Linked DNA regions of Homo sapiens. The protein of the gene in region 2 purifies or fractionates together with the protein of the main gene of each other region. This does not show direct contact. Each region holds a gene or a part of one and is shown on either strand. Other genes may lie near its edges.

Region 1 (3,934 bases), on a different chromosome or scaffold from region 2:
TTCCAACTTAGCCCCTCTAGTAGGGACTACAGGCCTGTGCCACTGTAATTGGCTAATTTTTATTTTATTTTATTTTTGCAGAAATGGGGTCTTGCTGTGTTGTCCAGGCTGGTCTCAAACTCCTGGCCTCAAGTGATCCTCCAGCCTCAGCCCCTGAAAACGTTGGATTAGAGGCCTGAGCCACTGCACCCAGCCTACTTTGGCTCTTAATACAGTTGTTATGAAAGTTTTCATTTCTTTTGGGTAAATTAAATACCTTGTAGTGGAATTGCTAACTCATAGGGCAGATATGTGTTTACTTTTTAAGAAACTGATGGCCAGGCATGGTGGCTCATGCCTGTAATCTCAGCACTTTGGGAGGCTGAGGTGGGTGGATCATTTGAGGTCAGGAGTTCGAGACCAGCCTGATCAACATGGTGAAACCCCATCTCTACTAAAAATTAAAAGAAAAAAAAAATTAGCCAGGCGTGGTGGCACGCACCTGTAATCCCAGCTGCTTGGGAGGCTGAGGCAAGAGAATCACCTGAACCCAGGAGGTGGGAGGTTGCAGTGAGCTGAGACTGGGTCATTGCACTCCAGCCTGGGCAACAAGAGTGAGACTCTGTCTCAAAAAAAAAAAAAGAAACTGCCAGATCTTTTTATGAAGTAGTTATACCATTTTATACTCCCACCAACAGTATATGAGAGTTCCAGTTGCTCCACATCTTCCCCGACACTGCTCTTTAAAATGTGATTTCGATTTGCATGATTTGCATTTCCCTCATGATGAATGATGTACTTTTTCTTGCACTTACGGGCCATTTATATATTTTCCTTTGTGAAGCATCTGTTTGAAGCAACATACCTCCATTTTTGCCCATTAAAAAACATTGGGTCATTTATTTGTATTTATTATTGAATCTTAGAAGTTCTTTTGTATATAAAGAGAACACTCTTTGTCAAATAAATGTTTTGTGAATGTTTTTTCCTAGCTTATGGTGTATCTCTCTCTCTGTCTCTTTTTTTTTTTTTCTGAGGTAGAGTCTTGCTGAGTTGCCCAGGCTGGAGTGCAGTGGCACAATCTCGGTTCACTGTAACCTCCACCTCATGGGTTTAAGTGATTCTCCCTCCTCAGCCTCCTGATTAGTTAGGATTACAGGCATGCACCACCACACCCGGCTAATTATTGTATTTTTATAGTAGAGACAGGGTTTCACCATGTTGGCCAGGCTGGTCTCCAACTCCTGACCTCAAGTGATCCACCCGCCTTGGCCTCCCAAAGTGCTGGGATTACAGGCACAAGCCGCCATGCCTGGCCCCATATCTCTTTTTTTAATAAAAATTTTTAATGGTTGTTGCTTTTCTGCCCAAGTAATTGTCGCCATCCTCATGTCGTGAAGATATTCTCCTTTGCTTTTTTCCAAAAGCTTTATGGTTGACTTTTACATTTAGGTCTAGGATACATTTTAAGCTAAATTTAATGTGTGGTGTGAGTTAGGGGTTGAAGTTAATTTTTTTTCTCCACATAATTATCCAGTTATCCAGACTATCCTGCACCATTTTAAAAAAATTAAGTTTTCTCATTGGATTGCTTTGGCACCTTTGTTAAAAGTCAGTTTACTGACAGTTGGACTTTTAAATTTGCTTTTCTACCACCTTAGTAGCTACACCGGATCATCAGTCCTGGTTCTATTGTTTAACCCATGCTCAATTCAAAAGTCATTTCTTGGCTGGGCACAGTGGTTCATGCCTGTAATACCAGTGCTTTGGGAGGCTGAGTTGGGAGGATTGCTTGAGGCTAGAAGTTTGAGACCAGCCTGGGCAACATGGTGAGATTTGTCGCCTCTACAGAAATAAAAAAATTAGCCAGGCATGGTGGCACAAACTTGTGATCCTAGCTGCCCAGGAGGCTGAGGCAGGAGGATGGCTTGAGTCCAGGAGTTTGAGACTGAGTGAGCTGTGATGGTGCTGCTGCACTTTAGCCTGGGTGATAGAATGAGACCCTGTCTCTGGAAAAAAAGTCATTTCTTTTTAGTTTTATCTGTACCTGAGGGAAGTGACAACCAACTATGGCTGAGAGGGAAACATAGATTTTATTTTTTAAAGTGAAGAAAGATTTGTCATTTTTTAAATTATAAAAATAATATGCTCTCGTTGTAGAAAATTTAGGGAGCATAGAAGGGTATAAATGCTAATAGCACTTATCTACAATCTCCTTCCTTAGAGATAATCACTGTTTAAATTAACATTTTGGTTTATATATCTTAACTTATATGTATTTAAAAATTACAGTATTCATGTGCTTTATCTTTTTAAATATTTAATGAATAGTATGAGTTTTATATAGTCACAATTATCAATCGTTTCACTGTAAAGTGATTTCTGGCTTAGTGGTCATGTTTAGGAAATTCTCTGTTACCAGGATTATATCATCATATACCTGACTTTTTGTTCTCACATGGCTTTATTTTTATTGATATTTTCATTTCATTTGGAATTCTGATGGAAAGTATGAAGTAGGAGTTCAAAGATTATATCAGGAGATTGAGATTTGTCTAGGTATTAAATTTCCCAAAATATTAATTGGGAGTTTCTGTTTACATCTCTTTATTATACTTTCTATTTGGAGAGTGGTGATTGGGGTGAGAAAAAAGGTTTAATGATTAAGGTCTAATGATTATAGGTTAGGTCTCTATTTGGGCCTCTTGAATTTCTTCATGAAAATACTATACAACTATACTTAAAACTCTAATTTGTTAGTGATAAGGATTACTGGTGGAGAGAATGTGGATGACTCAGTGCAACTTACAGCTTTTAAAAATAATAAAAGAACATTTTCCCTTGGTGGACTAGCATATGGAGCTTACTGTTTAATAAATTGATGTGAAATCATGGTGCATTTGGGGCTCAACTAAAACTATACTCACTTTATCCTTAATTGGAGTCATTTTTCTTTCCTCTCATCTGTACTCCTGCCCCCCTTTAAAGTATTATTAAATTATATAGATATTCTTGTAAATTCTGCAGTTAGGTTTTCTAAATGACCCTCACATATCTTTTCAAAAAGCATTTGGGTCACAATACTTAGCATTTCTCTCATTCCCCGCCTTCCCCTTCCGTGTGTGTGTCTGTGTGTGTGTGTGTGTGTGTGTGTGTGTGTGTGTGTGTGTATCAGTCAAAGGGAACTATTTGGATTCATTTTTAGTTCATTGTCAATAATATTTTGGGGAATGTTTCTAAGTCCAGGAATGATTTTATGGTTTGGTACTTCATTTTGGTAAGGTATGGGCTGTTTGTTCAGATATCTAAAGTGCTTTATAATTTTTTTTTGTCATAGGTGATTGACCACTTATATTCAATGTCTGAATTCCTTTATTCTCTAAAAGAGTTTCACCTCAGATTTCTTTAGTTATAAAGCAAGTGATAGACATTTTATTTTCAAGGGATTATAGACTTGGAACAATTTCTAATGTTTAATTATTGAGGTTTCTATGCCATGGAAATGAATTAGCGAAGTGTTCTCTAGCAGTACTTTATTTAGATAGAAACGCGCCAGAGCAGGGCTGGTATTGTCTTAATTACCTGCATGATTGTGTTGACAAATGCTTAATATGCTAAGCATTGCCTTCATATATGCTTCTTGGCTTTTGAGTTTATTTTTATTTAATGCACAGAATATGAGCTCTTTTAGTACGAGTCTTTTATGTTTTCCTATTCTGTAAATATTTGTTGAATGAACTAACAATTTTTTTTTTTTTTTTTTTTTTTGAGACAGAGTCTCTCTCTGTCGCCCAGCCTGGAGTGCAGTGGCACAATCTCGGCTCACCGCAATCTCTGCCTCCCGGGTTCAAGGGATTCCCCTGCCTCTGCCTCCCGAGTAGCTGGGACTACAGGTGTGCACCACCACGCCTGGCTAATTTTTTGTGTTTTAGTAGAGATGAGGTTTCACCATGTT
Region 2 (3,934 bases):
CCTCAATTGTTTGGCTTTAAGTTAATCAAAAGGGAGATTATCCTGGGTGGCCTGACCTAATCAGGTGGAAGCCCTTTAAAGGAGGGCTAGAACACCCCTGAACCCCCTCTGAGGTTCTGGACTCTGAGCCATTACCCGCGTTGCTCCCTCTCCCCTGGGATGGTCTGTTGCTGGCCGCCTGCCCTGCTGACTTCAGGATTGCCTAGCCAACAGCCACAGTTATGTGAGCCAATTCGCTAATTCCTTGTGATAAATCAATTTCTATATTTTATCAATATTATATTACGTCAGCATTATATATATTTAGGCCAGGAGTGGTGCATGCCTGTAATCCCAGCACTTAGGGAGGATGAGATGGGAGGATTCCTTGAGCCCAGGAGTTTGAGATTACAGTGAGCTATGATTGCACCACTCCACTCTACCCTGGGCAACCAGCTGAGACCCTGCCTAAAAAAAGAAGAAAAAATTATAAAATCTATATAGATAGATCAACATATATTTATAACATATAAAGTTATATATTTATATATGATTTTATATAGCTATATGAATTATTTATGTTTATATATTATTTTTATATGTTATATTTAAACGTAATTCATGTCTATATAAATAAATGTATATATAAATTTATATATTATAAATATATGTTGCTATATCTATAAATTTAAAAAATTATATATTTATATAGTTATATAATTTATATATTTAGAAAATATATATTATAGTATACAAATATATTTTAGAAATATATAAAATATGTATATGTGTGTGTCATAGCCAGGTGCAGTGGCACACACCTGTAATCCTGGCACTTTGGGAGGCCAAGGCAGGCAGATTGCTTGAGCTCAGGAGTTAGAGGAACTCCATGTTGCCCCATGTTATGTTTTGGTATCTACCTGTCTGTCTGTCTGTAATCTACTGATTCTGCTTCTCTGGTTGAACCTTGACTGATAAAATGTTCCTCTTATACCTATTGCTTAGCAGACCTTAACATTCCGCTTCTTTGAAAGATTCTCTCCTGTTGGTCTCTCCTCTGAGTGCACGTGGGTTCATTTGAGCCCTACCTCTTCTTGCCTGGATTACTGGGGTTCTCGTCCAGCTGGTCTCCCTGCATCCCGTGAGGTCCATCCACATCCTGTTTATTCTCATGACTACCCAGTTTGTTCTTAGTAAACTACATATCTGATCTTGTCACTCTTCTTCTTAAAGTCTTTCAATGACTCCCTGAAGCTTTCAGGCAAACATTTAAAAGCGTCAGCTTTTTTTGTATGACTCCATTTTCTCTCCTCTCTTAGCATATCAATTATACTTCTTTTGAAAACCTTTTTAGTGGTTGCCCAGGAGTCTGCAATGTACATTTATGACTAATCCAAATCCACTTTCAAATAACACTATACCACTGCATGGAGTGTGCAAGTACCTTAGAATGGAGTCCTCCCAATTCTCCCCTCCTGTCCTTGATATTACTGCTGTCATGGATTTCTCTGATCCATAAACTGTAATCACCAAATACATTGTTGCTACTATTGTTTTAAACAAACGTATCTGTTTGTTAACTGTTAACAGTTCAGAATAAGAGAAATAAAGATTTTTATTTGTTTGTTTGTTAGTGTTTTTTCCCAGACAGGGTCTCACTCTGTCGTGCAGGCTGGAGTGCAGTGGCACGATCACAGTTCACTGCAGGCTTAGCCTTAGCCTCCCAGACTCAAGCAGTCCCCGCACCTCAGCCTCCCAAGTAGCTGGGACCACAGGCACATGCAACCACGCCTGGCTATGTTTTTTTCTTTTTTAATTTTTATAGAGACAGGGTCTCACTCTGTTGCCCAGACTGGTCTCAAACTCCTGGGCTCAAGCGATGCTCCTGCCTTGGCCTGCCAAAGTGCTGGGATTATAGGTGTGAACCATCCCACCTGACCAGAAGAACTTCTTTTAACATCTTGTAAGTCAGGTCTGCCAGTGACAAATTTCCTGTTTTGTTTGTCCAAGAAAGTCCTTTTTTTTTTTTTTTTTTTTTTTTGAGACAGGGTCTTACTCTGTCACCCAGGCTGGAGTGCAGTGGCTTGATCTTGGCTCACTGCAGCCTCCGCCTCCTGGGCTCAAGCATTCCTCCCACATCAGCCTCCCCAGTAGCTGGGACTGCAGGTGTGCACCACCACACCTGGCTAATTTTTCTATTTTTTGGTAGAAAAAAAAATACAAAATGAGGTTTCACCATGTTGGCCAGGCTGGTCTCAAACTTTTGACCTCAGGTGGTCCACCGGCCTTGGCCTCCAAAGTGCTGAGATTACAGATGTGAGCTACCATGCCTGGCCGACTAGAAAGTTTTGTTTTTTTTTTTTGACAGAGTCTCACTCTGTCACCCAGGCTTGAGTGCAGTGGCGTGATCTCGGCTCACTGCAACCTCTGCTGCCCAGGTACAAGCGATTCTCCTGCCTCAGCCTCCCGAATTGCTGAGATAACGGGCACCTGCCACTGCGCCCGGCTAATTTTTGTATTTTTAGTAGAGATGGGGTTTCACCGTCTTGGTCAGGCTGGTCTCAAACTCCCGACCTCAGGTGATCCAACCGCCTCGGCCTCCCAAAGTGTTGGGATTACAGGTGTGAGCCACTGCGCCTGGCCCCAACTAGAAATGTTTTAAGGGATATAAAGCAGTTAGTACTTGAGATGATTCTTCTGTAAGATATGGGATAGGTGGAAATGGGTAACGACTAACAGAATCAGATGGTATGCATCCCCAAATAGTAATTCCAATGATCTAGGAAGACCAACATTCCCACACCATCCCTACCACCACAGACTCAGTGTTTCTCAATGAGAGACAGAATTTGTGTATGGAGGATCTGAGTCCAAGCCCTTCTATTAGTATAATTGCATTAATATTATTTGTTTCTTTTTTTTGTTTTAACTTTTACTTTAGATTCAGGGGTACACGTGCAGGTTTGTTACATAGGTAAACTTGTGTCACTGGGGTTGTACAGATTGTTTCATCACCCAGCTACTAAGTTTAGTACCCATTAGTTATTTTTTCTGATCCTCTCCCTCCTCCCACCCTTCACCCTCAAGTGAGCCCCAGTGGGGTCTGTTGCTCCCGTTTTTGTGTCCATGTGTTCTTATCATTTAGCTCCCACTTTTAAGTGAGATATTTGGTTTTCTTACTTATAAATGTGATATTTGGTTTTCTGTTCCTGCATTAGTTTGCTAAGGATAATGGCCTCCATCTTCATCCATGTCCCTGCAAAGGACGTGATCTCGTTCTTTTTTGTGGCTGCATAGTATTCCATGGTGTACATATACCACATTTTCTTTATCCAGTCTGCCATGGATGGGCCTTTTGCATTTGGACAATTTCTACTGACACGTGTTCAGGCTCACTGATTCTTTCCCTGGCCATGTCCAGTCTACTGATGAGTCCATCCAAGACTTTCTTCATCTTTGTTACAGTATTTTTGATTTCCAACATTTCCTTTTGATTCTTTCTTAAGAGTTTCCGGCTGGACGTGGTGGCTCACGCCTGTAATCCCAGCACTTTGGGAGGCCGAGGTGGGCGGATCACGAGGTCAGGAGATCGAGACCATCCTGGCTAACATGGTGAAACCCCATCTCTACTAAAAATACAAAAAATAGCTGGGCATGGTGGTGCACGCCTGTAGTCTCAGCTACTTGGGAGGCTGAGGCAGGAGAACCACTTGAACACGGGAGGCAGAGGTTGAAGTGAGCCGAGATCGTGCCATTGTACTCCAGCCTGGTGGCAGAGCAAGACTCCGTCTCAAAAAAAAAAAGATTTTCCATCACTGCTTATGTTATTTGTCTGTTCTTGTCTGTTGTCCACTTTTCCCTTCAGAGTCCTTAGAATATTAACCATCGTTGTAATTAATTAATTAATTAATTTTAACCATAGTTATTTAAAATTCCTGGTCTGATAATTCTAAAA
Region 3 (2,826 bases), on a different chromosome or scaffold from region 2:
GGTCCCACCGCTGCCCACAGCACTCAGCCTCTGAGCACAGCCTGGGGTCATCTGTGTGCCCTCTGGCCAAGGCTGATGGTAGTTCTCTGAGTAATTGAGAGTCATTGCCTGTCTGTGCAGTATTGTGAAAACAAGTCACCTTTTAACTTTAAAACTACTTTAAAAAACTTTAAAGTTTTAAAAAAACTTCTTTAAAAACTACTCATGAGATGACAGTTTCTCTGACCCTCAGAGGAAGGCTGGGCTGCGCATACGTGAGGAATTTTTACATGAACATCCCAGGACTTGCTGTTCGCAGGTGATAAACTGCACCTCCCCAGGACTCCCGCTGCACTCACATGCAGCTCCCTGGACTTCTGGTATCTGACCCGGCCCATTTCTGTGTTTCAGGGGAGAATTTGGCTTGCGGGAGTACTCAGAAGTTAAGACGGTGACAGTAAAGATCCCCCAGAAGAACTCCTAAGAAGGCCAAGAAGGAGGATGAAGCCCAGCCTGCACGTCTGTCCCTCTCTGCTTTCTCTGTAGGGCCCAGCTCTCAGGAATACAAAGTTGAGCCACGGTCCTTACTTAAAGATTGAAAAGATAACATGTAGGCCAGGCAGGTCACTGCACAACTAAAGCAAACCAGCTGGGTACAGTTTCTTGGCACTCTGTAAGGGGCCACCTTAATCATACCAAATATTGGGGAAAGTGGGATAAAGGGAGGAGGAGGAGCTAGCAGACACATCCAGTATCTCCTTCTGGAGCACAGGATGAAATAAGGGAGCTGTATTATTTCATGTCTTTGTCACAAAGAACTTTCCTCTCAAGGAAAGGTGACCTTTCTCCTGTCTTCATTTTCCTCCTTCCAGGCCCTCCTCGCTCACCCACCCCTCCCTCTCTTCCAAGGAGATGTCAGCTGAGCTCATTCTGGGGCAGATGTTTGGGCCGGGAACAATTTTTCAAGGTTGTAAAGCCAAATTATCATTTCATGTTATCCATTTCTTCAAAGCAAAACATGAAATGGTTTTAGCTAGAGTCAGACCAGAATGAAAATGCCAGGAGCTGGTACACTACAGATGTAGTAAGAACCTGGGATATTCCTGACCCAATCTGGTTTTCTTTTACCCATAAATAACATGAATGAAAAAAGATTGGGACAATAGAGACTGGAAGTCATCATGTGCAGTTCACCGCTTCTGAGCTTGCTGCAGTTTTGGGGTGTGTGTGTATTAGATTCCTTCTCAGTTATTCTGGAATAAGGCAAGGAGTGGGTTGTTTTTCATAGCTAGATAAGATCTTTTCCAAAGTTTTTCTTAGAACCAACCAAAAAACAATCCGAGTAGGCCCAAGAATTTGATAATGCTGGATGCCTTGCAGACATCATTCAGTTTCTAATATTGGGCAACAATTATTATTAAATGAATTATTTCTGTAGTTGGAATCTGTACCTTCTGAACCTCTACACCAATAACTGCTGCAGGTGTGATTTTGGTCTGTCACACTGTACATCTATCATAATGTGCCCTGTATCTATTGGCAGTGACCTTGGAAAATCTGGCCAAGCCTAGGGGTTTCCTTTTCCATTTGCCAAGTTCCATTGTGCCAGGACTGCCGTGCTCCACTGAGCTCCTCTGTCACACCCCATTCTTGCCCCTCACTGGGCAGGCCATGGCCTACAGCTTGCAGGGAGTAAAGCAGGCCCGCCTCCCTTTCTTCCCATCCACATACTCCTCTTCTGCTTTCCAGTGACTCCACCAGTTTGATGTGGGAAGTGTTAGCTTCCTTTCCTTCTTCCATCCCTTCTTCCATCTTTCCAGCTGTCAAATCCAATCCAGTCTCTAACCTAAATGCAGATCATTTATTTAAAAGTACCAAACATAACCCAGAGTATGTGGAATATGGGCAACATATATATAGCCTTCTGTATTTAACGATCTTCTGCTTCTTAACCGTACCAGTTTTCTATTTATAACTCTTATCTATCCATGATGTTTTAAAGTCTCCACTTGCTGTTATTTACAAACGACAGTGCATTCAGCAGCCCAGTGCCGTGAGCCCTGACAGATGCCGTATTTCTGAGTGCTTCCATGTGAATGCTGCCCTCCTGTAGCATGTGTCCAAGTGGACATAGCCACTAACCAACTAGTTACCTTTGGACTGCAACAAAAAATGTGAAAATGAAGATTTATTTCTTTTAATTTACTTAAAAAGAAACCTCTGTGCTAGCAATAAAGCATTTATATTGTGTACTCCTTGGGATTGTTTGGCTGTGTCTGTAAGTCTTTGGGTCATACTGAGTCTCTTTGGGTCCTTCCTCAGCTGCTGGGTTTTTCAGCTGTGTTGCCCTCTTGGGTAACTGAGCAGAAGCCTGCAAGGGTATTTTTACAGAATTCATTAAGGCAACTGGTAAATGGTATTAAGGTAAACAAAAACCTTATTTTCTGATGCTATTTAAAATCTGTGTGCATGTGTAGTTTAGCTGGCATGTAAGTATAACCATATATGAAATATATGAAATAACAAGTTTCCTTTAGAATAGCCTCCATGAAAACTAAAATGCAGAGCAGTCTATAGGGTCTGTTTTCACAAACGTGGACTACCCGCCGTGAGCTCACATTGCTGATGGCATTTCACAGTAGCTTTATTTTTACTTACTTACCAAAGTGAAATGAAGTCAGAGGCTGATAACCTGATGGAATATTTTTGCAGCTGTAAAAAGAAATCTGTAAATGGTGACCGTACTACTACCAAGATTGAGCTTGTTTTCTCTCAGTGTGTTCTCAGAGTTGCGCTTTTGAGGAGTGGTTCCCACCCTTTAGAACCGCACAGCTCCCCACCTTTCCT
Region 4 (3,934 bases), on a different chromosome or scaffold from region 2:
AATAAATGAAATTGCAGATTATCCTAGGATTTTGCAGATCTGCTAGCTGTTGGCCTAATGCCAGAACATGAACTCTTGAAAAAAGTTTTTTTTAAAAATAAGCCTATCACGTTGCCATATATTATAATGGGGGATTAAATATAGTCACCCTAGTGGTACCTCTTACTGGCATATAAAGTCTAACTGGCACATATGCCAATAAAATGTACCTTACTAACATGTATGCCAGTTAGACTCTGTATATGCAGGTATATATATATATAGTAGGGACTTAATATTCTTTGTAGGATTGCATATATATGTAGCTAATACTAGTTACTTAAAACAGTTGGTTCTTAGATAGCTGTGGATTTGACCAGAATCAGGCAGAGGCAATAAATCTGAGTATTTATTGAGTAGGTGTGAGGAACTCACATAGACTGCCTGAAGAGTAGAGATGCATGGGGTTGGGGATGTGCTGGTAAGAGATGAAACAGAAAGAGGTGGGCCCACATCAGTCTGTGAAGGTAAGGCCCTTGCATGTCATTAGTGTCCCGGTATTATGTCACTGCTTTCTAAAGGAGTCTCATGTTAACAGTAGAAACATGTAAAATTTAGGAACCAGACGGAATTGTGATTTTAAATAAGCCAATCAATTTCCCTAGTCTGACTGTTCTTATCAGTAAACACAGAATACAAGGGATATAATGTAAGCACATAGTATTTGTAATAGTAGTTGACATTCATTGAGTGCTTTCAATGTGGTAGGTACTCTTGTTTATTTTAAAAGAAGCATTTTACTAGAATCATAGTAGAAACTTAGTGGTCAGACTTCATGTAGCATCACTTACAACCTTCATTGAATATTGTGAAGAAACTTAGTGGTCAGACTTCATGTACCATCACTTACAACCTTCATTGAATATTGTGAAGTGCTTGTTGAATCTGAGACTTAAAAATTTTGTTCTTTTAGAGGAAACATGGAGAAAGCCATTGACATGTTCAACAAAGCTATTAACCTGGCCAAATCGGAAATGGAGATGGCCCATCTGTATTCACTTTGCGATGCCGCCCATGCCCAGACAGAAGTTGCAAAGAAATACGGATTAAAACCACCAACATTATAAAACAGGGGGAAAGCAGACTGACCCTCTTTTTAAAAGTTTACCCCCTCTTCAACTGAACCCTAAAGACACTGTCATGAACTGTGTTGAATGGTGGAAATCAGTATTTCTGTTTGTGGTGTTGTTATTTGTTACATCTGTTTCATGTCTAGGTGTTGTGGGTGTGGCTGTTGAAGGAAGTTTGCAGTCTTGCAGCTTTTATTCCCTGTGCAACAAAAGATTAGAACATGTTAAAGGGATTTTTAAATAAAGTTGCAAAGAGTACAAATGATAATTGGCCATGCAAATAAAAACTGATTTGTTGATTTTTTTTTTAAGGGGGGTTGGCAGTTGATTATGTTCTGGATGATTCCGTCTATATATGTGTGAATAATGTAAGTATTTTACAGCATGTTGATTTTTAAATTAACGTAGTAAATGCTGTAAAATAGATTTATATTCAGTTAACCGCTTTCAGTTGATTTTTTGAAAGAAACAAAGGTTAAATGGGGGATTAAAGTAAAATTGAGAGACCCTTTAAACCATTGTCAGCATGCACAATGCCTCTGATTCTGCAGTTTTAGAAACTTGGTGGCACTTATTAATCCTCTTGGCCCCTTTCCACTCTAATGGATAGTGTACATTCTTCTTAAAGTCCACAACAGCAGATTTTCTTGCAGTAAATTATGCAGATGCAAAATATTCTAATTGATATATGTGTTGGAAGACTGAGTATTGATGGGGGAGTGGACCAGACAAAGAGGTAAGATGAAACAGTAGTGTGTTTATAATTGTCTGTGACTATTTTCTATAATAATTAGTACTATTTAATGGTGAGCTTTTAAAAATGTAGGATAGAGGGTACAGTGGCACTGTATATACTATTTATAGTCTCAGCTACTAGGGAGGCTGAGGCAAGAGGCTTGAGACCAGGAGCTCGAGGCTGTAATGTGCCATGATGATTGCACCTGCGAATAGCCACTGCACTCCAGCCTGGGCAATATAGCAAGACCCCATCCTTTAAAAAATTTTAGAACTTTTTTAAAATCAAAGTGCAGATTGCTTGTATGTAAAACCCAAATAAAGGTAGAGTAAGTGTGATATATGGGAGTATTAAAATAGCTTAAAATTTCTCGTGAAGGACATGTGGCTAAAGGGTCAAAAAGGATGTAAGACTTGGAGCCAGAGCATAGTATTTCCTGAAATAACAAGTTTAGTGCTTTAACTATGGCTACATGTGCTTAAGGAATTTTGAGCCACTTATTTTTGAAGATGCTGAGGACATGTAGAGTGCTTTTTGTAGTGAGCTAACCTTGATCTCTAAGGACTAACTACCCAGGTCCAGGTCTTCACTAGGGGTACTGACAGTGTTTAAGCTTTACTCCACCTCCTTACTTAGAAATCACTTTACGATTTATTTCCATTTTCCACTTTTATAGACCATCCTTTTGCTTATATGCTAGATTTTTCTGGTGAGGGAAGGGTTGTGTTCTTCAGGGGTCTTTTGTTTTGAAATACTCAGGATGGGGAGAGGTTTATTTAAGAACGAATTATAATTATGGTTTACACTGTTGGGAGTAAAGGAGCATTTTTACACCCCTTAAGGGTGCTTAATTCTGTTGAAACCAAAAAGATTTGTCTACAAATGCTATCTTTTTTAGAAACTATTAGAAATGACTCCCTTTCAAAGTCAATCTTTGGAAAATATTGAGGAGGTCACTAATTAGTTGGTGCAGTTAATATAATTCAAGATGATTTGGATGATGGGAAGTTTGAGACCGCTGCATTTTGTTTTTAAATTATGCACCTTCTGATAACCCCCAAATACAGAAATGTTCTACATCTCTGAATGACCTCTGACTTTAAAAAAGTTTTTATTTGCATGGCTGTATTTACATTAACACTGACATTTTCTTCTACTCTTCTCCCTTCTTTCATCTTGGGGTTGGGTAGAGAAACACAAAGGAAACTGAAGCATGTGCCATTCTATACTGTCATTCCAAATTCTCATGGACTATTGCCTGTTGTGAAAATGTTTGAAACTGCACTGAAAGCTGCATCTGTCTGTATCTTTCTTTTGTAAATGACCTCACATGTAAATTCACCAAATAAATATTACATTCAAGCTCTTCTATCTATTCTTTAAATAGAAAGATAGGTAGTTTAGGCTGGGCATGGTGGCTCACACCTGTAATCCCAGCACTTTAGCAGGCCGAGGCGGGCAGATCACGAGGTCAGGAGATCGAGACCATCCTGGCTAACACGGTGAAATCCGTCTCTACTAAAAATACAAAAAAGTAGCCGGGTGTGGTGGTGGGCGCCTGTGGTCCCAGCTACTTGGGAGGCTGAGGCAGAAGAATCATTTGAACCCGGGAGGCGGAGGTTGCAGTGAACCTGCTGAGATCACGCCACTGCACTCCAGCCTGGGCAACAGAGCAAGACTCCGTCTCAAAAAAAAAAAAAAGGTAGTTTATTCATTTATTATGCTATTGCGTAAATTCACAGTGAATCTCTTGTGAACTCAAAATAACTTTGAAAATAGGAACATACAGGAAATGTTAGCATATGAAGCAAAGTAAGTTTGTTGGTATGAATGGTGGAGTTTCTTGAGAGCATCCACCCCTCCTACTGTGAAACAAGGCTCCACGGAGAGCTGGTAGAGCCAACTTATTTCATTCTTTGCCTCTACCTTACCCATACATGCACAGCAGCCTGGAAGCTTGCCAATCAGACATGGACCCTGTGGATAAGTTTATTTTGAATCTGGTTTCACCAGTGAGATTGATCATAGTTCTCAACCACGTGGAGTCTCTCAGAAAGCATACCTGAAATAATCATCCTCGAAAATTGTG

The links.
Region 1: the proteins of SFXN2 (region 2) and ROCK2 purify together in Homo sapiens (affinity purification with mass spectrometry; one large-scale study listed by BioGRID and IntAct). This does not show direct contact.
Region 3: the proteins of SFXN2 (region 2) and ALDH1A2 purify together in Homo sapiens (affinity purification with mass spectrometry; one large-scale study listed by BioGRID and IntAct). This does not show direct contact.
Region 4: the proteins of SFXN2 (region 2) and TOMM70 fractionate together in Homo sapiens (co-fractionation; one large-scale study listed by BioGRID). This does not show direct contact.

Annotation. Positions count from the first base shown.
Region 1 is NC_000002.12:11,334,324-11,338,257, reverse strand, and holds part of ROCK2 (rho-associated protein kinase 2), read left to right. Parts: intron 1-3,934. UniProt on the Homo sapiens protein: Protein kinase which is a key regulator of actin cytoskeleton and cell polarity.
Region 2 is NC_000010.11:102,720,930-102,724,863, forward strand, and holds part of SFXN2 (sideroflexin-2), read left to right. Parts: intron 1-3,934. UniProt on the Homo sapiens protein: Mitochondrial amino-acid transporter that mediates transport of serine into mitochondria. Involved in mitochondrial iron homeostasis by regulating heme biosynthesis.
Region 3 is NC_000015.10:57,952,834-57,955,659, reverse strand, and holds the end of ALDH1A2 (retinal dehydrogenase 2), read left to right. Parts: intron 1-390; coding exon 391-463; 3' UTR 464-2,231; downstream 2,232-2,826. UniProt on the Homo sapiens protein: Catalyzes the NAD-dependent oxidation of aldehyde substrates, such as all-trans-retinal and all-trans-13,14-dihydroretinal, to their corresponding carboxylic acids, all-trans-retinoate and all-trans-13,14-dihydroretinoate, respectively.
Region 4 is NC_000003.12:100,362,736-100,366,669, reverse strand, and holds the end of TOMM70 (mitochondrial import receptor subunit TOM70), read left to right. Parts: intron 1-952; coding exon 953-1,106; 3' UTR 1,107-3,239; downstream 3,240-3,934. UniProt on the Homo sapiens protein: Acts as a receptor of the preprotein translocase complex of the outer mitochondrial membrane (TOM complex). Recognizes and mediates the translocation of mitochondrial preproteins from the cytosol into the mitochondria in a chaperone dependent manner.